4 separate regions of the Homo sapiens genome follow, and all the other regions are linked to region 3. The links come from fine-mapping of genetic effects on gene expression. A gene starts in region 3. Each other region holds a variant in brackets. All regions are shown on one strand. Distances are from middle to middle.

Region 1 (8,092 bases), 53 kb after region 3:
GACTGCATCACGTTATGCTATAAAGATACTAGCTATCTGCACGAATAGTTATCATGAAGCTCGGGAAGAAGTAATAAGACTGGATAAAAGTAAGTGATGATTTCCTTAAGGGAGCCCTTGTCCCAGAGGTTCATCCACCCTTGAAGCTGCAAAGGGAACTGTGGTCGAGGAGGAACTTAGCAGCAATGCTGTTAACCTCTCCCAGACTTCAGCAATGTTTACAGAAGATGTTTCACATCCAGATCTGAAAGCATTTAATTAACCTTTTGGATGCACACAGGTAGAATGCCCAGGCTGGAGACCCAGCTGACAGATGGCTCAAAGATAACAGGGTCAAAGCTAGGAAACTCCCTCCTCTCACCAAGTTCAGTTCTCTGCCTTCACAGAAGGAGAGGGGGAAACACCGTCAACGTTTAGTGAACAAGGGAAATATCAGAGTCTGAGCCTAGGTTTAGTCCAGTAACTTAAACCGGCTGTAGTTATTCACAGCAGGCTTCCCAGGAGAGGCAGCCTGCTAATGTTCTTCTTACCAACTCCCTGGAATGCACAGAAGGTGAACTGAAGGAGGCTCCACCATGGAAGCGGCAAGCCTTTCTCCTGGATCCTGTTGCATACCCTGCAGGTGTAGGTTGCTGGCACATTGCCTCCACCTGGGGGCTGTCAGATAAGACCTCTCACCCTGGCGCAGTGAGAGGTTAAGAATAGGCTTTCAAGAAGACAGACCTGTCTGACACACAGCATTCATTCATCTAACAACTGTGTTGTGCTGGGCACTGTTCTAGGAAGCGGAGATACTTCAGAGGTTCAGCAAGGAGTTGAGGAGGTTCATATGCATTCAGTGAATGTTTGCTGATGAGTAAGTGAACAAGTTCTGCTGCAGAGTTACTGGGGAAGCTCGGTGTCCGCTGACATCTCCCTGCACCCCTCATGTCCTGTTGCCAGCCTCCTATTTTGGGATTAAAAGGAGCTGTTGCTTGTTCTCTTCTTTCCCTGCAGAGTTGAGCGTTATGATGAAGCTGCTCAGCTCGGAGGATGAGGTTCTGGTGGGCAACGCTGCCCTCTGCCTTGGTAACTGCATGGAGGTGCCCAACGTTGCGTCTTCCCTGCTAAAGACGGACCTTTTGCAGGTCTTGTTAAAGCTTGCAGGCAGTGACACACAGAAGACGGCCGTGCAGGTGAACGCAGGCATTGCTCTGGGGAAGCTGTGCACAGCTGAGCCCAGGTATGCTGTGGACACGGAGCCAGGCTGACCTATTGCAGAAAGAGCAGCTGAGCTGAGGTGCTGAGTTTTGGCTGGGACTGCATGCCACACAGAACAGTGTGGGAAGCCCTCATGCTTTCTGTGCAGACCTAGGTTAAGCCCAGTAGCTGCTTCTCTGAAGAAAGCCTTTCTAGAGGAAACTGGGGAGCTCTCGGTCTCCAACCAGAGAGGGAATCGGCTTGTCTGACAGGGACGTGCTGCTCCCACTTGCTGCCGTTGCCTTCTCTCCATTCCATTCTCCACTGTTTTGCATCCCTCTCCCTGTCTCTTTATCCTCCTTCTTCCCCTCCCTCCCACTCCACCTCCCCTTCTCTTCCCTCTTTTCTCTCTTCTCCACTTTTCCAGAAACAGACCCCCCACTTCATGTTCTTTGCCTCAGCCTAAACAAATGGAGGAACGGCCAGCAAGGGTCACATGTTCATGCAGGAGAAAACAGTGGAGAAGGAGAGACGCAGAACAGCATGCCGAGGTCCCCAGTGAGCGAGGGCAAGAGATGTGGGCTGTAACTGTGCCCATGGCTTCTCTGTTAGCTCAGACCTCCACTCTGCTCTGCTCCTCTTCTGATGTGCAGACGCATCTCATTGCACGTGCTTTTGGGAGGTGTCCACCTGTGGCTGAGCAAAGGAGCCCTGGCATAGAGCAAGGGTAACCCCGGGAGCTGAGTGAGAGAGGCTCCTTCCCTTACATCCACATGCCTTTAATTCCTCCTCTGTAGATTGAGGGGGTTGGCCTTGATAATATCTAAGGTCCTTTCAAGTTCTGTCTGGTTGTTCAAATGGAAGGAATAGTTAAAATCTTTCTTCTATAGAAAGAAAGCACATTAGCTAGGATGACTTCAAAGTGGCAACCTATGGGGGAGTTCTCGAGAGCAAGGTCCTGTCTGATCAGCCTGACACACCTGCCACCTGCAGCGAGTGTTTTCAGTGCTTTGTGGGCCTCCCTGAGGGTCTTACTTACCCCTGTGATCTTTAGGGTACCCCAATGCCACAGCCACTTCCTGTTTCCACCCAGAGTGATAGGACTGACGTTCTCAGCCAGCTTCCATCTGAGAGGGTGTTGGCTCTGGGCTCCAGAAGCCTGAACCGTGGCACTTATGCCCTGGGTTGTTTGTTTTGATTGTGACAGATTTGCTGCTCAACTGAGAAAGCTTCATGGCCTAGAAATTCTCAACTCTACGATGAAATACATCAGTGATTCTTGAGAGAGACAGGGTTTGTGTGCATTTGGGGAACACACAGATGCACACCGTGTGTTGTTCCTATGCTAATAAAGACCTTTGATGTATCCACTTCAGAATCAAGTACTCATTTTTAGAGTGTTTGCATTTCAGGTTTTCACGGGTAACAAGAGAGTGGGCATTAGGCTGGCTGCTGTGGTGGGCTCTGTGCACTGGCTTACTCGACTTCCATTGTACCCTCCTTTGAATGTTCTTTCCTGTTCTGTAGAAGCTAGAAACCATCTCACAAAAAGCCACATTGCCCAGACTCCCTTGTAGCAACGATTCTAGATGGGAACTAGTGGCCAATCTAATGCCACTTCCTACCCCTTTTGCTATTTTCTGCTGGCAATATGCTAGAAACATCAGATTTGTTGGTAGCAGCATTTCAGCTCCGTTTTTCCAGCTGTGGAGTGCTGAGAGAGAGTTGCATTGGCATCATTGGTGGCCTGCAGCTGACTCCTGGCCTGCAGCCACTGCATGTGCCGTTAAATTCAGTGGGGTGAGTGGTAGGTGGTGTCTCCCCTGTTAGGAGAACTCTGCGTGAATCATTCTGGGAATCATTCCTGGGGGTCCCTCTGGCACCCTCCTCCAGCCCATCTGGTGGTGCTATAGGCACCCTGTTCCATGGGTTAGATTGTTCTCTGCTAAAGGTGCCAAAGCACAGGCTTCTCTTTCTACAGTGAACCCTGACTGATGCAAATGTGTTGATTTCCCTAACCCACCTTGTACTCTCACCCCATCCCCAGAGGCAACGCTCCCTTCCAGTTGCCCCAGGGTCACTCTAAACCAGGGTCACCTGTGGACTGCAAGTCCCTAAGTGAGAAGTCCAATAAGTGGCATTATCTCTGGCTCCTTACAATCACAGAATCATTTTAGAGTAGGAGGCAGGGTCTTCATGGTACAGTGAATGTCAGGAGTCCCAGACCAAAGTTCCAAAGACTTTTGGTCGTACCCTGCTACCTGCCCTGCCAGCCATGTGACTTTGGGCAAGTTGCTTAACCTCTCTGAGCTTTGGCTACTGCTTCTGGAAACACTAATACCTGCCCAACCTACCTCCTCCATTGTTGTAAAGGTTAAATGAAGTTTTGGAGGTGAAGGCACTTTGGGAATTATAAAGTACTACGCAAATATAAGAGATTACCAGACTCTATCTTGAGATTGAGGGTGTCAACTATGACGTCATTTGGGTTAAGTTTGAAGGGTCTGGGAAAGGATGAAGCTCATGTCCTTTAAGGAATCAAGCTGGCCATTCTCTGAAGCATGTAGGAAAGGAAATCCTCCTCCTCCAGGGAGATGTTATTCAACACACCCAAAGAAAGTGTTCTTCACAGGTAAGGCAGCTGTTGGCTTAAATTAAGAACTTCGTTTCTGAAACGGAGATAAATAATTGGCATTTGGTGACGGGGGTGGGCGGTGGAAGAAAATCAATGGCCTGAGCCCCTCATTCAGATTGATGTACTGCGCATGGCTGGAGGGAGCTCACTGGGGCACTCTGTGGTGGCGCCCTGGGTGGCAAGCAAGTGACAGGCCACTAGCCAGGACCTGCCCATCAGTCCTATCATGCAAACAAACACCCTTCAAGAGGCTACTGAATTGCAAAGGGAGAACGGCTCGATGCTAATCAGAGCACAAAGAAGAAAATTAGAGGGTGCAAAAGTTGCTGTTTTCACAGAATTCCGTGGAGCTTTGAAAACGGAAAGGCTGTTTGTGTTCATAACCACCAGCCCTGTCTCCTTTGAAGTTCAGGCCCCGCCTTCCCCTGCTATGGCTGCCCTCCTTCTTGGCTCTTGAAAATGGCTATGATAGGTGTATTCTCTTCCCCAAAGAGTGGGGAATGTCAAATTACGTTATTATGTTTATTGTTCCAGAGTGCCTGCCGAGAGCAGTCATCTCCAATTTGGAAGAGAGTCTGCTGCACCTGAAGCTCTGTCTCCTCGCAGGTGGGAAGAGATGTTTCACATGCTAGTATTCTCCCTCTCCAGTGTGGATCCACCCCCGCCACCGCCCCAAACTTGTTACCCCTAACACATGCTACCATGCAGACCTTCCAGGCAGCATGGAAAATACCAGCGCCATCTTTCAGAAGGCCTCATCTCCACTTGCCAGGAGCCCCGACACCACCCTTGGAGACACGGCTTGTTCCAGGTAATCAGAGTCTTCTGGTTCAACAAGCAGAGGAGCTGGGATTTTCCATCCTAAAGAGGATGTGGCCGGGATGGAACTCCATCACCATCCTGAAGCCACAGCAGAGGTGGCAGGTAACAGACAGTCCAGAGCTGCTCACTGTCTTCATACATGAC[G/A]TGAGGACGGTGGTTCCAGTGCGCCGCAAGGTGGGACTGAGGTTCAGAGTTGAGAGGAAACAATAGGAAGGGGCTGAGATGCTGCAACAGGTCACGGGCTGCTATTGTAAACACTTTTTTAAGGATAGGTTCAAATAAGAGCTTCTTGGCTTGGAGAACTGAGGGGAAGTATGACTAAGAAGTATTAGGTTGGTGCAAAACTAATTGCAGTTTTTGCCATTAAAAGTAATGACAAAAACTGCAATTTCTTTTGCACTAACCTAATATTCTGAGGACAAGAAGACATTTAATACCACATGACTTTTTTTAAGTAAGAGGTCTCATTTTCTAAATAACTTGAAAATAGAGGCTCTCCAAGGGTTCCGTTACAGGAGAGAATAATCAGAGGTGAAGAAAACCCATTTAGAGCTGACTCCCTTTCCCAGGGAATGAGCTTTTGGTCCTCATAGACTGGCATCCTGCAGACACGCAGAGAGAAAGAATAAAGCCTGCCTGTGCATTGTTTGTTTGTTTGTTTGTTTGTTTTGAAACAGAGCCTCACTTTATCGGCCAGGCTGGAGTGCAGTGGTGTGATCTCAGCTCACTGCAACCTCTGCCTCCCAGGTTCAAGTGATTCTCATGTCTCAGCTTCCCATAGCTGGGATTACAGGCATGCGTCCGTATCCCAAATTTTCATATTTTTATGAAATATGGTGTTTCACCATGTTGACCAGGCTGGTCTCGAACTCCTGACCTCAAGTGATCCACCTGCCTCAGCCTCCCAAAGTGCTGGGATTACAGATGCGAGCCACCATGCCCGCCCCCCCACCCCCCGTGCATTGTGCCTTTGCTCTGCACTAGGCACCCTATCAAAACTTGAAGATCCTGCCCTAACATAAGCCTCATAACGACTGTGAGGTGGGTATTATCTCCACTTTACAGGTAAATAAGATAAAAACAGAATAGTACTTTCCCACCCAGGATCACATAGCCAGGAAGCAGGGGAGTCAGAATTTGACCCCAAGCTGTGTTCTTAACTCTTCCTGCATGTAAAACATTCCTCTCCTTACTAAGTGTGACCTGCAGAAAAGTCACCACATTTCTCAGAGCCCCAGTTTCCTCTCTATAAAATGGGAGCATCAACACCTACCTCTCCTTCTGTGGTTTGGATATAATATACATGAAGTACCTAGCATAGGTGACTGACAGATAGAAAGTATTTACTTAATGGCGACTCTTTTTGAGAACAGAAATGACCATGAGCCCATTATCTGCCCCCTCCCACCCTCACGGATCTGCTTATCTTCCTTGGTCCTCCGTCTCACTGAAGGCAAGCATGTATTTGGCTCTGTTTACCTTTCCCTCTCTCCTGTGACTGGTGGCAAACATGAAGATCCCCCAAGAGCCAGCTGCCAGCCAGAAGCCTGCCTTCTTACATGACCCCATGGCAGCAGGGCCTGAGAGCACTGGTCTTGGGTGGGATGGGGTTCAGAGCAACTCAGGGCTCAGGGATAGGGTAGCAGCGCTCCTTGTCAGGGCCTGGGGCCAGGGGTGCATGGGCATCAACAGGACCCAGTGTGAAGTGGAAGGTGCTAGGATCAATGCTCTAAAATCCTCTTTGCAAACAGATACTCCTCTGTTACTTGCAGTTTGTCCTCAGTTTATAATCAGGAAAACCTGTTGATTGCAATGACTGTAGCTCCAATCATATATTCATCAGGATGTCATTAGTTCTTTTCTCCTAAAGCCCCAGAGCTGCATCCCCCTACCCTCCCTGATGCCCTAGAAAGAGGAGTGCTAGCCCAGCGGGACATCCAGTTGCCCACCACCTCCTCCAGCAGCTCCCGGCCCTGTGGGTGGCCACATGCCAGCCAAGCACTGGGCTTCTGTGACCTGAAGCTGCTGGATGACTTATTTCCTTTTAATAAGACTCCTAATTTGATCTCAATTTCAAAAAGGCAAAATGATGAAGGAGTTCTCCCTGGAGACATTCTGCCCTGTGGTCTGATTTTGCCCTGGGGCTGGATCAGGCTTTCTTGGCTGCTCTGAGGCTCAGCCCTGGCTTAGGTAGGAGGGAGCCTTAGGGTGCTGGCAAAGCAGGGAACAGTGGGCTGCCGATTACCTCTGCCAGCCACCCCAGCCTCAGATCTCCCCAGTTCTGGAGCAGGGCTCCTGTCACCAGCGGGTTGGAAGGAACTGCTTTAAATGAGGGTGGCTGCCTGCCAGATGTGCTGATTCAGCTCAGCCTGAGCATCACTCCATTGTCACATCTGTCCCCAACTTTATGTTTGGGCTTCTTATCTTCAGCAGCTCTGGATGCTCATTTAGATCCCTCAACTCCCCTCGGGCAACAAGCACACACATACACACACCCCCACACACACGGAATTCATCTCGCTGCTGCTGGGAGATGAATTTGCACATTAAAATAGGTGAGTTAACGTGCAAGGTGATTTACACTAGATCAAAGGCACAGCAAGATAGTGAGAATTATTGGAACAAGAGGCTGAAGAAAAGGCTCCTAGAATGTCCAAGCTGAAAAGTATTCAGGGATCATCTAATCCTCTACAGTCATCCCTTTGTATCCACCAGGGATTGATACCACAGATACCAAAGCCCTGGGATGCTCAGGTCCCCTATATGAAATGCATCATATTTGCATATAACCTACATACATTCTCATATACTTTAAATCATCTCTAGATTGCTTATAATACCTAACACAATGTAAATTCTATGTAAATAGTGGATATACTGTATTTCTTAAAATTTGTATTATTTTTTATTGTTGGAGTGTTATTTTTATTGTTTTTTCCCCAAATATTTTTGATCTGCAGTTGGTTGAATCTGCAAATTTGGAACCCGAGGGTACAGAGGGCTGACTGTATCTGCTTTGTTGGAGTCCATCTGATTCATTGTCTAAATACAATTAATTGCTCCAAAATGGCTAGTCCATGCCCCCTTATTTTATAAATAAGGAATCTGAGACTCAGAAAGGCCAAGTGAAGTATCTTCAATGTTCTTACCTTTGTTCAAGAACCCTCTGAACTAATGGTCCAGAGTGGGGTAGGGACTCCAACAAGACCCGGAGAGGCAGGAAGCTCAGTGGTGGGAGTGCAGGCTCAAAGTCCTCCTCCACCTTGCTTTAAATTTCATAACCTCGCTTTAAGTTTTAAGTTTCATAACCTTAGTGAGTGGCTTAGCCCCTCGATTGCCTTGTCTGTAAAAGGCAATAGGGGAGATATGATACCCACTTCTTAGGTTTGTTGTGGGGATTAAATGAGATGATTTCTATAAAGCTCTCATCACCGTACTTGGCACATGGAAGCCCTG
Region 2 (8,107 bases), 73 kb before region 3:
CCTAAGCAAGTTCGAGAGGAGCCACTCTGGGCATGAGGGAACCTTCCTTCTGGATCTTCCCCTGATCTTTAACTTGTGGTTCAACTGAGTCTCCAGGTTTCCTCTGGTCTGGATTTGATCAGTAAATGAATGCTGGCTTAGTTACATTAAAGAGAGGAAGGCTGGGATGAGGCCCCCCTCTGAGTTTCTAACCAGTAACTGGAGTTTGAGTACTGAATCAGAGTAACTGGGTCTTGGACTTCAAAGGCCGCAGTGGTTTTCATTCATTGCCAGCTCAGTTCTTGCAAAGGTGAGACCATATATATAGATATATAGATATATATAGATATATAGATATAGATATATAGATATATATAGATATATAGATATAGATATATAGATATATATATAGATATATAGATAGATAGATAGATATAGATATATATCTCAGAAGCTATATTTTTAAAGTCAATGTTAAAAATGAAATTTTTAATGAAATTTTAATTTTAAATTAAAATTTAGATTTTTAACTACAAAAAAGAGGTCTCCAGACCTTGTTGTTTATTGTCTGATAGTATCAAAATGGATAAGTAACCACGACTCCAAGAAGCCCTTTGGAAAAGGATGGTGTCATCTCTGCATTCCAAGTAGGTCATGAATGGTACAACAACAGGCATTGTTAGTGGTACAGAAAGTCAGTTTTTCTCAATCATTTAATAAAGTTAAGGTCTGAAGAATCAAAAGGCAAACTTCTTTTAGATAAGTAGAACCATGGCATATTCTTAGAGTTGAGCACGCCTTTTGCAAGAATTTTAGCAGGATGAGGCGGTGAACATATGGGAACATCATATTATCACCAAAGATAACTTATTATGGTCTTTCTTTGTGCCCTGATAACCTTCCCAGAGTTGCTGAAGTGAGGACTTAGCCCACGGAGTATCCTGCTGCCCCTAGACCCATCCTGAAAACAGATATCATTGGGAGGATGCTGCCAGCAGTTACAACTGCTATGACAAACCCACCCTTTTGCTGCTAGGAACTGAGGACGAGCCTTAGGAAGGACCTTCTCTGAATTCTTACTCTCATTTCTTGGAAGACACAAAGATTGTCTGAACTTAGGTAGACAGAACCAACCACCAGTTTAGCTGTGTGCTTGCACTGAGCCCAAGAACCAGTGGCATTGGTTTCTGATGCCAGCTTACGGCACCACTGACACTGCACCCCTGTCCTGTAATACTGTTGGGATGCAGATGCACAGCAGGATCTCCTACCACTGGAGTTGTGCTCTGGTTATACCCCAAGCCCCAAGGAAGAGAAGGCACAGAGTCAGCAGAGGCCAGTGTGCTGCACAGGCAGGTGTTGCTGCCGGACTCCTGGGCTGCCAGGTGTCAGGTGAGACCAGCGCATTTGGCACTGACTCATCGCTTGAAGTTCGTTGAGATGTCTCAATAATGGGGTTGCTTTCTTGGTTCTTTAATAGACCTTTCCATGTTTAGGGACATGGATATATCAGAGCAGGGATGAGCAGGGGGAGCTAGTAAAAGCCACAAACACTTAATGGACTCTTGTTTTCAAGCTGCCAGTTAGTAAGCATGGCTTACCTGTTTGGAGGTTCCTTTGTGTGTAGTTCATGAATGTGCATGAAGGTAATGAGGAAGCTGTGACCCCAGACCAACAAATAAAACTCTAACCTGTGAGAATGTGCCTATTTCATGTATTTTTTAAGCCAAATGTCTGCATGCCATCAAGACACTCAGGAGGAAAGCTCAAAACCTCTGTTTGCCTTGAGACGGGCTGCTTGTGTCAGACTCCTTACAACTAGCTAGGAATCTTCCCCTCCATGACTGAGCTACCCACCTTCATAATTTCATTGCCCAAACATTACCTCTTAATTTGCTTCTGTACCATGAAGCAAAATAGATTATTTCTTTTTGAATATAGAGATTATGAATGAGTCTCTACTTTTTTTTTTTTTTTTTTTTTTTTGAGACGGAGTCTCGCTCTGTCGCCCAGGCTGGAGTGCAGTGGCGGGATCTCGGCTCACTGCAAGCTCCGCCTCCCGGGTTCACGCCATACTCCTGAGTCTCTACTTTTTAAAAGAGGCATCTTGAGATTTTTGTTTTCATATGTTGTCCCCCAGGTGGCACATTGCAAGTATAACTATGCAAACAATTCAAGCTAAACAAAGAAAAGAGAGGGAAGGAGACCTGAATTAACCAGACCATCCAATAATGATGAGTTATGATTCTTTGTTGCTTTGATTCCAGTGACACTGTACTCATGGTTTAATGAGATGCCCTCATGTGGAAGGTAAAGGAAGACAAAACCATGAGTATTAGATATTAAGGCAGTGGCGGAGATACACTGAGGTTTTTCCAAATTTTCATCTAGCTCTCGAAGGAGACTTTGTTTTGTGACTGCTGATGGGACTACTTCCAAATATTTGCCAATGAAAAACCAAAGATCCATTCAGTGTCCCAGTATCTCAGATGCACAACTAACCATCCTCTACACAGAAGAATGGCTAGAATTTCAGTCCCAGTCTCTTCATCATTTCTATTCCCTGGAGGAGTGAGAATAATCCTGAACATTATTTGCATGGCTCTTACGTAGCAGCCTCCAAATAACCACATTCTGTAGGGGAGTTTTGGAAGGCAGCAGTGGTTGCAGCATCATCTGTATGATACAGGATCATGAACTTCATACACTAGTACACATTAGGTAGGAGAGCCATTTCTGTCTCATTCATTCAGATGTTGAAATGAGTGAGGCATATAGGTTTTGCTATAAATAAAGTCATATGTGGAAATATATACCTATATAGAAACACATATATAGATGTGTAACATGAAAAGCCAATGTCTATTTTCTCCTTCACTGGTTCACCTTAAACTGAGGTCCAGATTCCTTTTCCTCCTATACCTCTCGTCCTATGGAGACAGCTGGTCCTGCTGAACTGGATATTTGTTTTCAGTCAAGGTTTGAGGCTTGTGCAGCTGTTCCTGGCCCAGACTTTACCTGAACTGCAGGGTTTGGCAGGTGCACAGTCTCAAGGTTTGACGTTAGAGAGAGCCCTGCTCCTCGCTAGTGCCCTGGCCAGCTGTTCACACACGGTGTTGTTCTTCCCACTTTAACTCACTTCAGCTCCTCATACTGATGCCCCAGGGTTGTTGCTTCCATTTTTTTTTCATTCAGTATCTGTGTGCCTCAATGATCTTTTTTCCCCACCTTCATTTTTCTTTCTTCAGCGGCATCTGCTAGCTCGTCTACCCCTGTTCCATTGTCTCCACCAGATAGTGAGTATCATTTTCTTCATCCATCTCTCTGCAGGTCACTTTCCACCAGCCACAGTTTGTTTTGCCTAATGTTATCTCCTTCACCAGGTGATAATTCAACTCAGTTGGTGGAAAGCAGCGTCGGGTTTTAGAGGAGCAGTTGAGAAGAGAAACAGGCATAGGGCTTCTCAGATCCATGAGGGGCAGCCTTCCCTGAAGGAGAGGCGAGGGAAAAGCATTGTTCTGGATAGAAAACCCTGCAGGCAGGATCCCCAAGGCTGCCGCCCTGGGGCCAGCCCTGTCCTCAGGATTCTGAGTGGGCTGGATCAAAGCTCGTATTTGGAGAAGCCAAAGGAATTGACCAAGAAAAATGTCTCCTCTGCAGGGTCATAGAAAATGTGTTGGAGTGTTTTGTTTTTACCCTTCATTTTAATTGGCACAGTTGGATACAGACATTGAAATTAGATAGGGAGGCCTGTAGCTTTCGCTTTATCCATAAATGCATACTTTTCTTGTAAATATTTGTGGGAAAATAAACAGTGTCTGGCAGTGTCTGGCAGATGTGCCTGGCAGTAGGCGCTTAGGCAAATCGTTTAACCCTTCACAAGTGAGCCTTGTTTATCTCCTCTGTAAAATAGGATGAGTAGTCACCCACGTCCCGCCACCCTAAAGAAAATCACAAACATTTTCATGTTTATCATGCTCTGCTTTACCCACATGGGATCATTACCACCAAGCCAGCAGTAATGTCAGCTGGTCGCTCTCAGATTTCATCATCCTGGCTAAGCCTTGCTCATTTCTGATCTAATTAATGTTGCTATCCTGTCCTTTTGTGTGCCTGAATGTGCAGGAGTAGAAGGGGCTCCAGGCCTGCCACTGTTTGGAGTTTTGAACCTAGCTTTCCAGGGAGGAATAGCAAAGTAAGACCACAGCTCAGTAAGACACAGGATGTAATGCCAGCATCTGCCCAGAGTGGCAGACAGCAGCAAATGGGCAGGCAGGGTGGTGCCGCCTGGCTGGCTTTATTCTCCTTGATATATCAGAAGCCCCTGTGGTTTGGACTCAGACTCAGGAGGTGACTCAAGCCTCAAGCTCAGAAGCCCTCTGTCACCATCTGTTGACTCAGAAGCATGCCCACCATCCCATGCAGTGCTTTTCCAGGCACTGTCCTGTAGCAGACGGAGTTCAGGCTT[T/C]GGAAGTAGACAGACCTGGGTTCAAATCACAGCTCCGCTTCTTCCGCCTGAAGCTCCATAACCTAGGATAAGTCGCTAAGCCTCCCCAAGTCTCAGATTTCTTACCTCTAAGGTGAAGGATGGATTCCACTTACCTTTTCAGTGTTTGTGAAAATTAAAGATTAAATGTGAAGAACACAAAACATACTGCTCAGCATTTAGCAGCTGGAATTAATAGTAAGAATAAATGAGAGTTATGTTATCTCTTGCTGCATGAAAGTCATTTGTCAGCAAAATCTCTGATCATCTCTTTTAAATATGTATATTAAGAGTCTTTTAAATATGTATATTAAGGCCCAGCATGGTGGCTCAGGCCTGTAATCCCAGCACTTTGAGAGGGCCAGGCGGGTGGATTGCTTGAGGCCAGGAGTTCAAGACCGGTCTGGGCAACCTTGTCTCTACTAAAAATACAAAAATTAGCCAGGCGTGGTGGCATGTGCCTGTAATCCCAGTTACTTGGGAGGCTGAGGCAGGAGAATTGTTTGAACCCAGGAGATGGAGGTTGTAATGAGACAAGATCGCACCATTGCACTCTAGCCTGAGTGACAGAGCAAGACTCCATCTCAAAATAATAAATAATATGTATATTAATATTGATAGAGAAGAGAGAGAATACCTCCTTCACCATCTTTATAATGATGCCTACATATGTATAATATATACTCACCCATGTATGTATACATATATAGCTATGAGTTTAATTTATCTCCATTCTCTCCTTCACCTTTCTTTGCCTTTTCTGTCTGTCGTGTTTCCATAGCAACTTGGCCTCTTCCTGCCCTTGCAACCACAGAACCAGCTAGTGAGTACAGGGCTGAGTTGCTCTCGGCCAGACCTCTGATCGCTTGTTGTAGAGCCGACTTCTAGATTACAGCGCTGCCTGTTGTTTTCCCTTTTATTAAAAGCAACAGTTGTGAATGCATGAAGGCTCCTAGCCTGGTGTGGTTTCCTAAGCATGCCGTCTGCTTGGCCAAGAGAGCAAACCAAGCATCAGCAAAAGAACGGGGTTGATTATTGGAAGAATACTCCGTGCATGAGGAGGCTTTTCCAAATCGACTCTCTAGTTAAAAATAGCCAAGGATTAGGCAAACCCTGAGGACACAAAAGAACAGCATCTCCTTCCCGGCTTTCGCTTTGCTGTCCCTCCTTCTGAAATACACACGCTCATGCGCGTGTTAATTTAGCAGTAGCAAAAAGACTGAGAGCGAGGGAAGGAATAGGAGAAAATGGCTGCTTGAGGAAAGGGAGAGGGTGATGCCGAGAAGGAAGGAGCCGCTGCTTCCTGACAGCATGCCCGGCTTTGTCTCCGCGTACGCAGAGCACAGGGGAAGGAGAGAGCTCCTTCCTGCTGTCTCCTTTCAGGCTCCCGCCTCAGTGCTAGAAAAATGATGGGCAGAAAAAGCCTAATCCAGGCTCCCCTTGGGTTGAGAGTCCAGATGAAAGTGCTGGAATTTATCTCTTGACAATAGAGTCAAGAGCCAGATTGTATCCTCTTTTTTCATCGTAGAAAACATTGCACAGAATCACTGCTGTAACATGTTCCAAGCTGGTCTTCATAATGCTCTAATGAAGTAAGATGTGTGTGGAGGACCTGAATCTCCTGAAGAATCCATATGAGTATGCGTGCATGTTCATAGTGTTCAAGCATCAAAGCTGTGTGGGAGTTTTAGATTTTATAATATTTCTGCTTGCACAGAAAAAAAATGGCATACATCCCATCAAGCAGAACAAGAAGGCAGAAAGCAGGTATGCAAAGTATAACTCCAGCTCCCCGGGCCAAGCTTTCCAATACATAATTGAACAGAGAAGAAAAGAGTTTCCTGGTTCTGTGTGTTGCATGAAATGGTTCTTTTTTTTCTACTGCAGAACACAGCTAAGGGTCTGCTTTCTTGGTGTTCCCTCCGTGTGTGTGCTGCGATGAATTTTAATTCCTGATGCTTTTGAGGTTTCATTTTGTCAGCAGAGCAGAGCCGGTGACAACAGGCTGTGCTCGCATGGGTTTAATTCAGATTATGAGGGGTTTTTTTTTACATTTGGAAAAGGAATGCAGCTGACAGCCCCTTTTCTTATTCTACAGTGTCACTCCTGTCCTTTTTCAACCTGGTGCAATGTGTGTCCAGGCACAGTAGGAGAAAGCTACATAATGTATTTGTACAACTGTGTCATATTTCAGGTGGCTCACTGTAGGTTGGTCTTCTCTGTTAGTGAAACACAATCTTGGTTCCAGATTTTGCCTGAAGAAGGAATTAGGTGTCTCTCCCCTGACATGTCTTTAATTTTTAAACATCAGACATTTCTGCCCACAGACAAAATGCTTAGTTGTGACATCCAAAGGGAAGAAAGTTTGAGTCATTTTATTTTGAACCACTTGACTACTGACCCAAATTGTAGGTCCCAGTGGATACTGAGATAAAGGAAAGATGCTCACAATTGGGCAGCAGCCTGAGTTTAGCATGAACATATTTCTCACTAGTAAGATGAAATGTGGCACATGTGAATTGCAGTGGAACTAATAGCAGAGTAGCTATCAGCATGTGAATATCCATCGATCATCAATCCATCAGTGGGGTTGAAAATACATATCTCCCAGTTTTGCTTCTGTGTGTGTGCGTGTGTGTGTGTGTGTGTGTGTGTGTGTGTGTGGACCCATTTATAATTATGAGGGAATAAAGGTATTCTAAATAAAACCAAAGGAGCAATTGCTTAGTTGTATATAATCCCTGCAAGGCCCCTTTGGTAGGAAGGTGCCTGAATCTGTGTAATGCCAGACAATAAGAAAGAAGCACACATTCTGTCAGCTCACGGTGGCAAGGGAAGAGGTAGCCTGGTTAAAGCATTTCTCTCAGGTTATTTTTAACCAGCGGTGTTCTTTACACAGAAAGGTGTCTTCATCTCCCTTCTTTGCCCTTCTCCCTCAGCCTCAATTGGCAATGGCCAAAACTTTCCCTGGCCTCTTAAATTTAAGGTCAGAAACCCAAAATACCTTTTAACAAGTCGAGATCACTCAGTCACAACATAGGACCAAAAGGAATGCTTAAGAAAAGTGTTTTTTTTTTTTCATTGTAAATCTCAAATTTATGACTTATCAGTGCAACCACGATTCTAAAGATATAACTTTAACCACAACAGGTTGGGTGCCGTGGCTCAAGCCTATAATCCCAGCACTTTGGGAGGCTGAGGTGGAAGGATCACTTGAGCCCAGCGGGGCCAACAGGGCGAAACCCCCATCTCTACAAAAAATAGAAAAATTAGCTGGGTATAGTAGCAGACGCCTGCAGTCCCAGCCATTCAGGAGGCTGAGGCAGAAAGATTGCTTGAGCCCGGGAGGTCAAGGCTGGAGTGAGCTATCTTCATGCCACTGCACTGCAGCCTGGGTGATGAAACGAGACCGTTTCAAAACAAAAAACTTTAACCACAAATGGCCCAAACATTTGCTTAATGTCAAACTCTCAGCACGTTGGGCCAAAGGTACAGTTTCTGCTGTTTAGTGTCAACACAGCCATTGTCTCAACCATCAGAAGGAAACCCATTCCCTAGTCTGCACTGGCCTCTTCCTTTATATGGGTCTTGACTTCAGGGAGGCTCACCGAGGTCTCAGGAATAACATGGGTTTGTGGAGAA
Region 3 (8,107 bases):
CCCAAGTCTCTTCTTAAACACCACATCATCAGGGAAGACTTCCAGTGTTTGAGACTAGACTTCCATGGCACCCTGTGCTACCTTTGCTTTTCACCCTTTACTTCTTATGGCACTTATCACAATGAGAATTTACATGATGATTTTGTTTATTGACCCTTATTCCCCTTGGGTGATAAGCTCCTTGAGTCTGGTGACTAGGTACCACTGGTGCTCTGCTGCATCCCAGCATTTAATGAAGTGTCTGCACTTTTCTACTCAGTGTGGCCACAGTCCATAAAGGGATGTCACTGCAGATCTCAGCCCCTATCCTGTTTAAACAAGATCACCAGGCAATTTCTACACACAATCAAGGTTTAGAGGACCTGGTCTAACACATACGAATCATAGTAGTAGTAATAGTTAATAATACTTACTAGGTATTGATAATGCTCCAGGCATTGTTCTAAGCACATGGCCTGTATTAACTCATGTACCTCTCACAGAAACCCTATGGGATAGAGAATCATTTAACAACCCAGTTTTACAGATGATGAAACTAAGGCCCACAGGGATTAAGTAACTTGCTTAAGGTCACACATCTAGCAGTAGCAGTAGCAGATGCATAGAACCAACAGACTGTATGCCTACTGTGTATAAGAGACTAGTTACATTGAGATACAAGGATGTGCAGCACAGAAAGAATCAGATCACAGGGCACCAAGTGAGGGGGAGGAGAGCTGCAGTGAGGAGGAGTCCCTCAAATCTATCTCCCAGTGGAGTGCTGGGCTGGGGTTTTTAAGGAGATCATGGAGGTGAGGGGCTAGATAACTGGGGTTGTCCATTGGTGGGATAAGGGGGATGAAAGTATCAGGATTTGGGAACTGCATTCTTTGGTGAGTCAACTTCTGGTCAGCTACAGTAGGAGACCTGGGGGGGCAGCAGGACAGGGTCATAGTGGGGCCCTCAGACCAGCTGGTGTCAATGGGTCCTTCAGAACAGCTGACATTAGTAATTTCACTGGTATGCAGGACCTGAAAGAATACTCCAAGTGGAAAACACAATGTTTTATGTTCAAGTTGTTAACTATAGAGCAGTTAAGGGGAACTATAATATTGTAACTGGGTCTACGTGATTCTGAGATAACAGACACTAAATAATTATGAAGAAGCAGGCCAGAGAACAAGCTGACCTCATGGTTCATGCTGAATGTGCTGCAAGCTGGGCTTATTTTATTTCTCCCCTTCCCTGCTTCCCTGATTAATTTTATAAAGTTTGTAAGGAAGGTTTCAGTAGTGTTAGTAATAAAAAAGGAGGAATATGATCCCCAGTACATAGCACAATAGAAGGTGCATAGTAGGTGCTTCAAGACATTTTAATGAATGCTAATAGGTGGAGATGTGAGATTTGAACCCAGCAAAATGGCTCCAGAGCCCCAGCTCTTAACCACTTAGCATGTGATGACTATTTGTCAAGTGCACCCCAGGGGCCTTCCGCTGCATCTAGCACACTACAGGCCACTCACACTAGCTGAACAAATGTGTGAGTGAATGGTTAGGTGGTACAGTCAGTTGTGGGCAGATACCTCTGGAACCTAGGAAAGGAGTTTAGTGAAAAGAGTAGTAGGATAGGAAGTAAGTGATTTGGAACTATTGGCCTCAATGTGATAAGAAACACCCTGAGGTTGGGGACCATAGGCATATAGCCTTCATGTATTCAAGGCCTCACAGGCCTAAGAGGAAAATGGGGTGATACTAATGGTGATAACCAAAACATCACTGGTTCTTGTCTCCATCAATTCCCACAGGCTGGAAGGTCACTGTGAAGTACCCTATATCTTTCTGAGGATCCCTATGGTGTGCCTAGCCTGTGCTCATCAACGTCCTTGCTCCTGCCAGGCACCTACACTGTCTGCTACTTCTCCTGAGGCACCTCATTCCCTTGGGACAGCCACTGTGACCATGTCCTGCTGGGATCCCCAGGTCTCCTGCTGCAGTTGATGAGCCAAAAGACTCACTCTGCTGATGCTGTACCCATTCAGCTGCCAAGAGGAGCAGAACATCCGTGGCCCCTTTGTGTTATACTGCATTAGAGGGGTACCCAAGCAGGATGGTATGTGTACCAATGCATCATAGAGACTTCAGCCAAACAGCTCTTCTGTTCTCTACAGGACACAGGCATGCATCCTATGGGGCCTAGGCCACAAGAGAGTCAACAGGCTGTACTTGGAATCAACACTAGAGCTAGCTGGCCATGCCTGGATCCCTCTCCCCTCTGGCGAATTCCATCTCTAGGGGCTCCTTGTTCCCTGCCAAACAGGTTTCCATAAAGCACTCATTTGCCAAGAAGTTCCGGGTGTTTCTGACCGTGAACTTAAGCTCAAGTTTCCCCTAAACCTGCTTTTTTTCCATTGGTAACCCTGCACATAATACTCTGAGATTTTGTTTAGAAAAACAGACTGAAATTTCTTTAGGGCTGTGTGCATGTATTTGGGGCATGAATGAATGTGCCTATTAGCTCATTCTGTTCTAAACCCTATGATTCCCCGGATGTCACGTGCCACCTGTTCCTACTGACTAGGTACCAGGCACTGAAACCACCATTGCAAAATTATAACTGAGATGGTGAAAGGGATCTGACCTAACCGACTCCATCTTGCTTCTCATCTCCAAGCTGTCTTTGTTCATTCCTAGGCATAGGCCAAACTAACTTTGGGGGGAACTTAGTTTATAGTGTAGCTTTGAAACAAAGACAATACCAGCCCTTTCCCAAACAAACCCCCTTCTTGCCCAGGAACTAGACTGCCTTTTCAGGACTAACAAATTAGCCACAAAATTAGAAATTATGGTTTAGGAGTCATGCAGCTAGAGGCTGCAAGATTCTAAACCTCAAATTGCTCCTGGGGATAACATCAACTATTGTAAAACCTAAGATCAGTGCTTAAGATATTTCACAGACACTGCACTCGATGGATCAGCTGGCACCACCCAGATGAATAAACTGGCTCATCTGGTCTTATGACCCCCACCTGGCAACTGACTCAGCACAAGAGGACAGCTTTGACTCCCTGTGAGTTCATCTCCTAGCCTACCAATCAGCACTCCCGACTCACTGACCCCTACCCACCAAATTATCCTTAAAAACTCTGATCCCTGAAAGCTAGGGAGACTGATTTGAGTAATAATAAAACTCCGGTCTCCCTCACAGCCAGCTTTGTGTGAATTACTCTTTCTCTATTGCAATTCCCCTGTCTTGATAAATCGACTCTGTTTAGGCAGTGAGCAAGGTGAACCTATTGGGCGGTTACAGCACTTTAACCATAAACCTTATGAGAAAGTGCCATTTCTCCATTTCACAGGTGAGAAAACTGAGGATTAAAAAGGTTACTCAAATAACTTTCCTAAGGATAAATGTGTGAGTCTTCTAACTCACACATTTATCAATGAACAAAACCGGATTCACAAGTACACTGGAGACTTTACATTTTGGGCAAGGATATTAAGCTAACGGGAGTGAGACAACCCTTCTTCAGTAGAAAAAAGGCGAGCAGCAGGCGCTGCTTTAGTTACCAGCACTTTGCTTCCTCCGTCTCCCCGCGCCAGGCATCGGGCATCCCAACCTCGACTTTGGCCTTCAACTTGGCGCGCTCCGGAGCTAGAGCTCTGCGGTAGCGAATCTGATCGCGTGTCCATGCCCGCCCCCTGTCCCGCCTCCTGGCTTTTGACCCCGTCCTTGGTCCCGCCCCGGGCCCTGGCTCCTGGCCCCGCCCTTGGTCCCGCCCCGGGCCCCTGGCTCCTGGCCCCGCCCCAGCCCAGGCAGGTCACTGCGCCATTTCCTGTCCAAAGCTGGGCGAATCAGGTCGGTGCCGCGGGGTACCCCGGAATCCCCCCTGGGAGCTGGTCCTGCACTGGCCTTCAGAGCCGAGCAGAGGACGCTGCTTTGGGCCCCAGAGCATGGGAAGGTCTTGGCTGCGGTCTGGGACGGCTGCGGTCTGGGACCTGCATGGAGGGCCCGGGACTTGCGGACGCCTGGGAGCGGTTGCTGGGCAACAGTGCGTGCGGCCTGGCCTCTTTGCGCCCGGCGGGCAGCGCGCGTCTGGGGCAGGCTCCGCGCGGGGCTCGGGCACAGGTCCCCGCTGCCGCAGCCCTACCGAGTGAAGCACTGAGCGCGGCGCCGCTTCGCCATCACCTGGCTCTGGCCCTCTCACCCTAGCGTAGGGGGGCACTGGCCAGGCAGTGAGGACCCTGAGATCCATGCCCTGGGAGACAGAGGTTGTCTCCTGTCCATGCACCCGCGCGCCTGCCTTCTAACCTTCATACCGTTGGGCAGATTAATTCACTGGACTAGGCCTCTGTTCCGTGGGAGTTGAAAAGATTTGACCTGGAAGAAACCCTAGCGATTATTCAGTTAAGCCGCAACCCCACCCCCTGTTTTATATAGGTAAGGGTGCTTCACGGTGAGGACTCGTCGCGTGCCTGGTGCTTTACATCAGTCCCCAGAATAGTCCTCGTAGTTTCTCTCTTACTGTTCCCATAGTATGGGTGAGGACTCTGAGGCTCGGAGAGGTTGTGAATTTAGCCAGAATCACACAGCTTGTAACTGGTGGAGATGAGGACACTGAGACTCGATTAAATCACTCGTAGTTTGTTCGTGGCAGATTACGTGTTAGAAGCGTGTTACACTACTATGAAACCTGGCCATAAATGAGAATCACCTGGAAAGTGTTTAAAATCTATATTCGTGTCTGGGCAATGTCCCGGGTTTACTGACTTGAAATCTCGGGCTACGGCTGAGGAAGCTGTATATTTAACAATCTTCCCGATGATTTTTATGATCTGTGGATGAACCACTGAGTACTGCTGGGTACACCACGGGGCCTTCTCGCACAAAAACAACTGTAAAATAATATCTGAGGTACCTAGAGCAGAAGAGACGCTGGTGAGCATGGTAACATTATGTTCTAATCCCTTCAGTCAATTTGTACCCTTTCTTCACTCTTCAGAAACAAGCCAAAGGCAGATTTTAAACAAGTATGGACATTTAGATGCAAATTGCCCCAAGTTTGTTACCTGTCACACATCCACATTTAAGCTTCTGACTAGACCAGCCTGTCATGATCAAAGTCAGGTGTTAGTGTATTTCTCTATCCTTGGCAACCTGTCATCTGCTCTCTTCTCATCTCCATGCCAGGTCCCTAAATCGCCGGGGTTGATGTTGGCTTTGGAAGAACTATTTGCAGAGCGTTTTCTGCACTGGAAGGAGGGCTGGAAGCTTTCTGGAAGCATTGCCGCACGTAAATGAGTGCCTCTTGGCCTAAAACAGCAGTTGGAATGAAAGGGATCACCCTGCTGTTATTCATTGACATAAACAAAACTGTCATAAAAATAATCACTTGGCTCTTAGTTTTAGAAGGCTAATAAGCCTGACCGTTCTGTTTAGTGCTTTATTATTATTAATTTCACCATTATGCTGCATCCCTTAGGGATTCCGGTTCACAATGGATGCTGATAAAGAGAAAGATTTGCAGAAATTTCTTAAAAATGTGGATGAAATCTGTAAGTACTAGTAAATCATAAATTAATTTCTGCTTTAGAGAAGTGGAGTAGATAAATGATTGCTCTAAGTTCCTGGGTGGCTTGACAGGTTTATAACTCTTAGGAAAAAAATGTAATTGAAATTAAAGAGAAGGGTATTGAGAAACAAGTTATAGCCTCAGGGCTGTATTTTCTGGCTGTTAATTGGTATCAGAGAAACTGTTAACATTCTGATAGGAATTCAGGCTGACGGTTTTCTTCCATATTTTGTATCCTTCTATGTGGAATCCAGTCAAAACCAGCTGCTGTTTCCCCATTGACAATGAACCCAGCTGTTCCCTTCAAGGGTCAAGAACCTCATTGATCAGTGTGAGATTCCTCCCGTTTTAGAGTAGAGCCATTTCTGTTTTAGAGCTGCAGAGGCAAAATCAAATGGCTTTCCTTTAGGATCCATCAAATTACATGGATGGTTTATGATCATCATTCCCTTCTCTCTCTCTAGACAAGAAAGTCCTTTCCCAAGTTCAGGCAGGTTGGATCTCAAAGAAATGTACTCTGATCCCACAGATCACATTCAGGAATTTCCAAACCTGTCAGTCCCTGTTCAGGGAGCTTGCTTGAGTATAGAAACAAACAAACCAACAAGCAAACAGACCTTACATAGTAAATACAGGCAATATGCTGAAATTGCTGCTTGTAGCAGATTGTATGGGTTCAAGGAATAAAGTGGTTTTAAAGCTAGCTTGGGTGACATCGTAAATGATACATGAATAATGCTTATCCCTGAATGCTGTTCCATGGAGCTCTGGCCTTGGCCCACTGCCACCTTTCTCTTCAGCTGGTCTAAACATGTAGCTTTACCTGCCACCTGTTTGTTCATGACCCCCACATCTACATGGACACTTAGCCTTCTTTTCTGAGCCTCTGCCTCTATGGTACTGTCATACCTACTGTATCCCACAAATAAACTTAAATGTGTCCAAAATTGAGGCATCATCTCTTTCCCTCCCCTTTGCCCTCCCCCTCCCAAATAAAACCTGCTTCTCCTACCCTCACCTTCATCCTGGTCTCAGTTGGTGACACCACCATCCAGAAATTTACAGGTCATCTGGGACTCCTCCCAACTCATAACCCTGCATCCAATTAGCCATCTAGTTTGGTTGGAGAGCCATCCTCTCCAGCCCTCCCTTTGTTCTGGTTCTTCTCACCCAGACTATGTCAACAACCCCCTGATTGTTTTTCCTGTCTCCAGGCTTATACTTCCCACAGAGTAATGTATCTAAAATGCAAATCTGACCCAGACACTTCTCTGCTTGGATTCCTTTTGCAGTCATAATAAATCCCAAGCTCTCATCAGGACTTAAGTCCTCCCATGACCTTGTCCTTACCTCTCTCATATCTCCCTACCTCACGCTTGAGCAGCAATAAACTGCTGATACTTCGCCACACATACTCTGTGTTTCACACTCTGCACTGGATCTTTGCCATTCCCACTGCCTCTTCATCTTTTTTTTTAACCTGGCTAACTTATGCATACTCAAAGTTCATTCAGGTATCATGTATACCAGTGCTGTCCAATAGAGCTTTCTGTGATGATGAAAATGTTCCATAATCCTCACTGTCCACTATGGTAGCAACTAGCCACATGATTATTGAGCATTTGAAATATGGCTTATAACTCCACCCTGTGGTCTAGTGCTTAGGGTTCTGTGTGTTTGTGGCTGCAGCCCAGGTTTGAAATGCGGCTTGTTTCAATTAATTTAAATTTATGTAGCCACATGTGTATAGATTCTGTACATTTACTTCTTGGGCTCTTGCTATGTGTTGAGTGTTGGTAAGGCCTAGAGAATACAGTCAAAGAATTATTCTTTTCATGGTATTAATAGTCCAGTGGAGAAAACAGATATTAAACAGTAATTTCAAGTATGCAATATGAGACACAGAGAATTACAAAGTGTAGGGATCTAACCCAGCTTTGGGAGGTTGTATTAGTCGGCTAGGGCTGCTGTAACAAAATAGACTGGCTGGCTTAAATGACAAAACTTTATTTTCTTAGAGTTCTGGAGTTTAGAAATCTAAGACCAGGGTGTGAGCAGGTTTGGTTTCTTCTGAGGCCTCTCTCCTTGGCTTGCAGATGGGCACCTTCCCGCTGTGCCCTCACATGGTCATCTCTCTGTACGTGCATATATTTGGTGTTTCTCTTCTTACAAGGACACTAGTCATATTGGATTAGGGCAATGATTAGTTACTTCTTTAAAGGCCCTATCTACAAATACAGTCATACCAGGAGTTATAGCTTCAACATGTGAATTTTTGGGGGGGATGCAATTTAGTCCATAACAGAAATTAAATAAAGTTTTCCAGAAGAAGTGAGATTTAGGCAAAATGTGAAGAGTGAGTCGGAGTTGGTCACTGGGAAAATGACAGGGGAGTGTCCTGGGTGGGAAGTAAGGAGGTAGGAAAGCTAAGAGTGAAGAAAGAGTGTGGTGCTTTTGAGGAACTAAAAGAATAAAAAGCCCCAAATGTCTGGAAAGAAGAGATCAAGGAGAGAAGAGTCCCATCTGAATATGGAGGGGCCAGATTAGGAAAGACCTTGG
Region 4 (8,107 bases), 65 kb after region 3:
AGCAATTCAGAAAAGATACTCTCAAAAGACTACTTGCCTAGTAACAGCATCTCCACCAATGAACTGACGCCAATTCTGGCTTTGAGTCTCCAGAGCCAATGAACTCTGTTTCTAAGCAGCTTATGTGAACTTCTCCTTTTGCCAATAAAAGCTTCCCCTCACCCTCCCCTCTTCGGGTGCATCTGTTGCTTGCTATAGCTGTGCATCCTAGATTATAATCCTTTTGCTTACTCACAAATAAGATCATTAAATTAGGAGATATATTTCTCTGATGTCTTTTTTTTTTTTAGGCTGACACCTTAAGGTATCAGTTAAAATGTTAAGTGCTCCTGCCCTATTTCCCCCATCTCCTTTCTTTCCCCAACATAATACCTTAATAGATACATATTATTCTGACATACTGTTTAACTTGCTTCTCATGATATATGATTTATTGTTTGCATTCTGCTCCCTTTTCCCACTAGAATGTGAACTTCGTAATTTTTGTTGGTTCTGATCCCTGATGTGTCCAAATACCTAGAAAAGTGCTGATACATAATAGGTGCTCAATAAATATTTGTTGCCTGAATGATGAAATTTAGCAGGAGAAGGCATTAGGGGACTTTCACTAGGGCCAGCCTGGGGTGAAGCCTGGTTACTCTAACTTTAGACTCTCCACAGCTCCCCAGCCCCTACTGGTGATAATGGTTTAAGCTAAAATACTACAGTAAACACTAGCTTCTGTTTACTAGTTTCCACTATGTACCAGGCATTGGGATAAGTGCTGGGCACACACAGAGGGATAGGACCTTCTCTTCTCTCGAGGAACTCCCAGTCAAAAGGGAGCCAAAGGACAACACACTAGAGGGTCACATACCCTTGGGCTTAGTGAATGTTTGTGATACAAAGCTAGGACATCTGGCCCAGCATGAGGCACTGGGGTAGAAATCTTCCTGGAAGAGGTGATGTCTGAGCTGTCCCTTTCCTACATTGGAAGAAAGACATGGCAAATACGAGTGTGGGTTGTGGGTAGGGAGAGAGGATGAGGAGAAATGAATGAAACTGAGACTATATCAAAGGCTGGGGCAGGAAAATTTGCTGTGATTCTCACCCTCACTTTCCTTATCTGAGCTGACCGAAGACATCCCCACAAATTCCTTTATCCACTCTCTGCCACCAAAACACACTCTCATTCACCTACCCAAGTAGATAAGGTCCTCTGCTCCTTTGAATTTCAAGGCAAAAAGACTCTTAGCAGGCCTTCTTTGGTTATCTGTTCTCACATCACTTGATGCCATCATCTGGAAATACCTGTAGGCTTGTGTCTAGACCAGTCTTTGTTTCTATGAAAAGCCAGCCCTTGCACCTGTGGCTAGCACCAGGTGCCTGCCACCACTGTATACCTGGAAAGGGGCATTGCTTCAGCTCTCATCTTCAGTCACTTGCCTTCTCCACTCCCAATTGCTCCTGATTCGTGCTCCCGGGGCCAACTATCGGTTCCTTTCTCTTCTAGATCATCCTGAGTAATTCCCCCAGGAGAGAGAGGATAGCTCAGAGCTGGATGGAATCTGAAAGGCATTCTTTTCCCAGTCTGAAACTCCATCTGCTTGACACTCTATGTGCCAAGTTTCCATATTCAATGCAAATTTACCAGCACATACATAGTTTTCCTGTTACTGGTTAAAAAGCGTTTTGACAGTCCCAGGGACACATTGCTTTCTTTCCAACCAAAACTGTAGAGACAAAGACACATTTCCACTGCAACTAAGTAATCCCGAAGTTTCTCCATAAGCCAAATTTGATTGAGCTAATACTGACCTTTCCACAGGCACAGCTTCCAAAGATATCTTTTTGCTGCAGGCAAAGTCCTGATGAGCATATTAGTCAAAGCTCCACCTCTTCAGTACCAGCACACCCACCCTCTCTTTTCTCTTCCTTTCAGGTTGAAGGAGAACAGGGAGTGTCTCTAAATTTCCACAGCTGATTTTTCTCCCCCCAGGAGGTCCTATTGTTCAGGCCTGGCCTGGGGAGCACGTGACACCCCACCCCACCGCCAGCAATGGATAAGCCTCAGGCTCAGAGTCCTGTATTTGATTTGATCAAGGCTATTCTGGCCATATGTTAAGAGCAATGTACCTTGGCAGGAAGCAAGCCAGGTTTAAGTCCTGGGCCACTGAATTGCCAACTGCGTGACCCAAGGCTCCTCTAAACCTGCAAAAATGGAAATAATAATAGTACCAAACTCAGAGGGTTGTCAAGAAAATTAAATGAGATAATGCAAGTTGAGCACTTGGGATGGAGTGTCTGGTTTGAAGCAAAGGCTGGCTAAATGACCATCTGATTATTGCTTTGGCCCCTGAAGCCTCGCCATCAATTTGTTCTCTCATTCATCAGAACAGCCCTTTGCTTGGAAAACCATACTTATAAAAATATGAAGCATCGTAAATGATCATAAGGAAACCGACCGGGGGAAGGTAGCAATGATGGGAATCTCTAAGGATCTCTCCCAGGAGAATCTGCCTAGGGGTTTTAGTGGCCTGACCCTGGGGAGGCAGGTTGGAGAAAACTGTAAAGGAAAAGCCTGGTCTGCTACAAAATGACTCAGAACCTACTCAGACTAGAGAAGTCTCTGAAAAAAGGCTAGAAATCAACCTTCACCCCGGGAGATTCACCTTCCTGTTCATTCATCCATTCATTCATTCATTCATTCATTCATTCATTCATTCATTCATTCATCAAATGTTAAATGAGCTCCCTCCTACATGGCCAAGTACTGAGGATAGAGCAGAGAACAAGATTCCTGTCCAGGAGCCCATATTCTATTGGTCTATTTAAGTTTCTTTGACTTTTAAGAATTGTATTCTTCACAACCACCTATACCACATAGTGAAACAAACAAACAAAATATTTTCTTCTTTTTCAACTTGTATTTTAGATTCAGTGGGTGCATGTGCAGGTTTGTTGCATGGGTATATTGTGTGATGCTGAGGTTTGGGGTATGAATGATCCTATCACCCAGGGAGCAAGCAAACAAGCATAGCACCCGACAGGTAGTTTTTCAACCCTTGCCCCCTCCCTTCTCCACCCCCAGTAGTTCCCAGTGTCTGTTATTCCCATCTTTCTGTCTATGTATACCTAAGGTTTGGCTTCCACTTACAAGTGAGAACATGTGGTATTTGGTTTTCTGTTTCTGTGTTAATTCACCACTTAGGATAATGGCCTCCAGCTGCATCTGTGTTGTTGCAAAGGACATGATTTCATTCTTTTTTATGGCTGCATAGTAGTCCATGGTGTATATGTACCACATTTTCTTTATCCAATCCACCATTGATGGGCTCCTAGGTTGATTCCATGTCTTTGCCATTGTGAACAGTGCTGTGATGAACATATGAATGCACATGTCTTTTTGGTAGCAAGATTTATTTTATGCCTAGTAATAGGATTGCTGGGTTGAATGTTAATTCTAAGTTTTTTGGGAAATATTCAGCTTGCTTTCACAGTGACTGAACTAATTTGCACTACCACAAACAGTGTATAAGTGTTCCCTTTTCTCCACAGCCTCACCAGCATTTGTTATTTTTTGTTTTTTTTTTAAATAATAGCCATTATTAAAATGGTTGCTGCAAAACAGTAACTCATTGTGATTTTGATTTGCATTTCTCTAATGATTACTGATGTTGAGCACTTTTTCATATATGTGTTGGCCGCAGGTATGTCCTCTTTTGAGATGTTCTGTTCATGTCCTTTGCCCACTTTTTATTTTTTATTTTATGTTTCCATAGGTTATTGGGGTACAGGTAGCATTTGGTTACATAAGTAAGTTCTTTGGTAGTGATTTGTGAGATTTTGGTGCACCCATCACCTGAGCAGTATATACTGCCCCCTATTTGTAATCTCTTATCCCTTGTCCTCCTCCCACCCTTCCCCCCAAGTCCCCAAAGTCCATGGTATGGTTCTTATGCCTTTGTGTCCTCATAGCTTAGCTCCCACATATCAGTGATAACAAACAACATTTAGTTTTCCATTACTGAGATACTTCACTTAGAATAGTAGTCTCCAATCTCATCCAGGTCCATGAAAATGCTGTTAATTCATTCCTTTTTATGGCTGAGTAGTATTCCATCATATATATGTATATCTCACAGTTTCCTTTTCCACTAGTTGATTGATAGGCATTTTGGTTGGTTCCACAATTTTGCAATTGAGAATTGTACTGCTGTAAATGTGTGTGCAAGTATCTTTTTCATATAATGACTTCTTTTCCTCTGGGTAGATACCTAGTAGTGGGATTGCTTGATCAAATGGTAGTTCTACTTTTAGTTCTTTAAGGAATCTCCACACTGTTTTCCATAGTGGCCATATAGTTTACATTCCCACCAGCAGTGTAGAAGTGTTCCTGCATCCACACCTGATCACTGCATCCACACCAACATCTACTGTTTTTTGGTTTTTGATTATGGCCATTCTTGCAGGAGTAAGGTGGTATGGGTTTGATTTGCATTTCCCTGAGTGATGTTGAGCATTTTTTCATATGTTTGTTGACCTTTGCCCACTTTTTTTTTTTTTTTTTTGAGACGAACTCTCGCTCTGTTGCCCAAGCTGGAGTGCAGTGGTACAATCTCGGCTCACTGCAACCTCCATCTGCCAGGTTCAAGCAATTCTCCTGCCTCAGCCTCCCAAGTAGCTGGGACTACAGGTGCGCACCACTATGCACAGCTAATTTTTGTATTTTTAGGAGAGACAGGGTTTCATTATGTTGGCCAGGCTGGTCTTGAACTCCTGACCTCATGATCCA[C/T]CCGCCTTAGCCTCCCAAAGTACTGGAATTACAGGCGTGAGCCACCATGCCGGCCTCCTTTGCCCACTTTTTAATGGAGTTATTTGAAGGCATCGTACTACCTGACTTCCGACTATACTACAAGCCTGCAGTAACCAAAACAGCATGGTACTAGCACAAAAACAGTCACATAGACCAATGGAAAAGGATAGCAAACCCAAAATAAAGCTGCACACCTAACAACCATCTGATCTTTGACAGTCAACAATCACAAGCAATGGGGAAAGGACTCCCTATTCAATAAATGGGATAACTAGCTATCCATATGTAGGAGAATGAAACTGGACCCCTACCTATCTCAATATATAAAAATTAACTTAAAATGGATTAAAGATTTAAATGTAAGACCTAAAACTATAAATATCATAGAAAACCTAGGAAAATACCATTCTGGACATTGGCCTTGGCAGAGACTTTATGACTAAGTCCCCCAACAAAACAAAAACAATTGCAAAAAAAACCAAAAGTTGACAAGTGGGACCCAATCAAACTGAAGTGCTTTTGCATAGCAAAAGAAACTATCAACAGAGTAAACAGACAACCTTGGAATAAGAGAAAATATTTGCAAACTAGGCATCCAGCAAAAGTCTAATATCCAGAATCCACAAGGCACTTAAATAATTCCCATGCAAAATCTTTTCTTGGTTTCTTTTAGTGTACCCAAAGTGGTCTGGCTAACTCTTCATCCCTAAAAGAGAAAAGGAGGAAGGAAGGGAGGGAGGGAAGGAGGGAGGGAGGAAGGAAAGGAAGGAAAGAAGGAAGGAAGGAAGGAAGGAAGGAAGGAAGGAAGGAAGGAAACTTACTCTACATGAATAGTAAGGAAAATAGAAAAAAAAAAAAGAAGTTATAAGAAGCATGACACTAGTCACATTTTAGAAGTCCCTTTCTTTACCTGCAGAGCCAGCAAGCTTTCAGAGTTCCCAAGAAAACCACCTTTTAGTGTTTAAGTCCTTCCCTAGTCCTAGCTTTCCTTCACTCCCCCCTATCCAGGAAGGGCCCAGAGGAGAGCAGAAGGATAGATTTATGGCCAGATCACCAAGGTTGACATAAGGAGGGCATTTTCCCTTTAGAGTCCTGGTAATAGGGACTCAATCTCCCTGGACTGACTCTTTGTTAAATTAAAAAGGGTTAAGTTTAGCATTCCTAGTCTCTTGGACACTGCCAGAGAAGGTATTGACCATGACATCTTGGGCATGCTCTGAGGCTGTTAAGGCCCCATGTTGGAATGATGTTTCTCTGAAGCCCTGGCCACAGCCAAGCATTTCTTCTAAACTGCTTGAGATGGCAGGATGCTTGAGACATCTGTTTGTTATTTTTATATGGACCCAGCCCAGAATCACAATCACCCAAGACCATAAAGAACCTGTGGCCATGATTTTGACAATGAGAACCATGGTTCATGAAACTCAGGGCTTCCATTTTTGGCTTCTTGACACTCAAGGTAGTTTTTCATCAAAAAGCCCTTCAAAAGAGAGACTGGTTTCCTTATTAGGAAGGAAAATCTATACTCTGCCAACTCCAGAAATTGAGTCTTAGAAGGAACTAGTTCGCTCCCTCTCTCCATCGTCTCCAGCCTCAGACATTTAACACAGTGGCCTTTCTCTTTCTCCTTGGGGTTTCTACGTGTCCACAGGGGGCCAGCTGTGTTCCTTAAGGCATTCTGTGGTAAATGTTAGATTACTGCCTTTCTCCTATTATGGGAATATTTTCCTTCCAAGAATATAACATTACCTAGTAATAAGGACAAGAACGAGAAATAGAAGGGGGAAGGAGAAGTAGGAGGAGGAAAAGGAGGAGGAGGAAAAGGAGGAGGAGGAAGAAGAGAAGAAGGGGGCTTTATTTGTATTTTTTAAATGTTCTGCTTGGAGATAATTACAGATAAGCACACAATTTTAAGAACTTATGCAGAGATACCCTCACCCAGTTTCCCCCAAAGGTAACATCTTATGTCACTATAGCACAACATTACAACCAGGAAATCAGTGATACAATCCATAGTCCTTACACAGGTGCCGTCAGTTTTACATGCACTCATTTGTGTGTGTGTGTGCATCTGTGTGTGCATTTAATTTGATGGAATTTTGTCACATGCATTGATTCATGTGGCCACCACCACAGTTAAGATACAGAATAGTTTCATCACAAGGTTCCTTTGCACTAACCTTTTACAGCTACACCCACCTGCCTCTCCCCCAATCTCACCTCTGACAACCACTAATCTGTTCTCCATCTCTATAATTTTGTCATTTTAAGAATGCAATATAAATGGAGTCATACAGTATGTAACCTTTTATGATTGGCTTTGTTCACTCAATAGAATTCTCTGGGGCCTCATCCAAGTGGCTGTGTATATCAGTAGTTGCTGAGTCCTATTCCATAATACAGCACTATGGTGTGTTTAGCCATTCATTGGTTGAAGGACATCTGAGCGGTTTCCAGATTTTAGCTATTGCAAATAAAGCTGCAATGAGCATTCATATACAGATTTTTGTGTGAACACTGTTTTCATTTCTCTGGGATAGATTCCCAAGAGTGCAATTGCTGGGTTGTATGGTAATCATATGTTTAGTCTTATAAGAAATGGCCAAATTCTTTTCTAGAATTGCCATACCATTTTACATTTCCACCAGCGTATGAGTGATCCCATTACTCTACATCCTCATCAGCATTTGGCGTTGCCACTATCTTTTCAGTTTTATTTTTAGCCATTCTGATAGGTAGTTAGTGATATCTTACTTGCATTGCTTAGTGGCTCATGATATTAAACATTTTTTCAAGAACTTATTTGTCATCTGTATATTCTCTTCAGAGAAATGTATTTTCCCATTTTCTAATTTGATGCTTTTTTAGCATTGAGTTTGAAGACCTCCTTATATACTCTATGAACCAGCACTTTGTCAAATATGTGCTTTACAAACATTTTCTCCCCATCTGCACTCTTCTCTTCACCTTCACCAGGTCTTTCACTGAGTGAGAGTTTTTCATTTTGATGAGGTTCAGTTTATCAATTTTCCCTTTTATGGATTGTGCCTGTGGGATTCGGCCTAAGAACTTTTCATCTAATCCTAGGTCCAGAATATTTTCTCCTTTTTTTTTCCTAAAATTTTTATAAGTTTACATTTAATATTTAAGTCCATGATTCATTTTGAGTTAATTTTTCAGGTGTGAAGTATCAGCTGGTTCATATTTTTTGCCTAGGAGTATTCCTAGTATATACCTAAGGAATGTAACCTTTAAAAATATACCTAGTATTTAGATATATTTTATGGATGATAATCATAATAACCATTCCAA

The links. PIP is the estimated chance that this variant, and not a neighbour inherited with it, causes the effect.
Region 1: its variant is fine-mapped to the expression of TTC12 in whole blood (TOPMed, PIP above 0.99).
Region 2: its variant is fine-mapped to the expression of TTC12 in tibial artery (GTEx, PIP above 0.99).
Region 4: its variant is fine-mapped to the expression of TTC12 in whole blood (TOPMed, PIP 0.97).

The regions. Positions count from the first base shown.
Region 1 is chr11:113,363,839-113,371,930 of GRCh38, forward strand. TTC12 (tetratricopeptide repeat domain 12) reads left to right here. Exons shown (of 22, transcript NM_017868.4): 20 at 1-89; 21 at 997-1,222; 22 at 2,387-2,549. The coding sequence ends at 2,462. Among named protein-coding and RNA genes, the nearest start is that of ANKK1, 20 kb to the right of the region's middle. The variant G/A (reference allele first, on the strand shown) is at 4,781.
Region 2 is chr11:113,237,559-113,245,665 of GRCh38, forward strand. All of the region lies in intron 14 of NCAM1 (neural cell adhesion molecule 1), which reads left to right. Among named protein-coding and RNA genes, the nearest start is that of NCAM1-AS1, 32 kb to the right of the region's middle. The variant T/C (reference allele first, on the strand shown) is at 4,448.
Region 3 is chr11:113,310,785-113,318,891 of GRCh38, forward strand. TTC12 (tetratricopeptide repeat domain 12) reads left to right here and starts at 3,799. Exons shown (of 22, transcript NM_017868.4): 1 at 3,799-3,834; 2 at 5,459-5,531. The coding sequence starts at 5,474. It overlaps TTC12-DT (TTC12 divergent transcript), which reads right to left and starts at 3,672. Exons shown (of 5, transcript NR_199709.1): 1 at 3,546-3,672. RefSeq lists silencers at 3,610-3,859, 3,883-4,177, 4,070-4,169.
Region 4 is chr11:113,376,247-113,384,353 of GRCh38, forward strand. No RefSeq gene overlaps it. Among named protein-coding and RNA genes, the nearest start is that of ANKK1, 7.5 kb to the right of the region's middle. The variant C/T (reference allele first, on the strand shown) is at 4,775.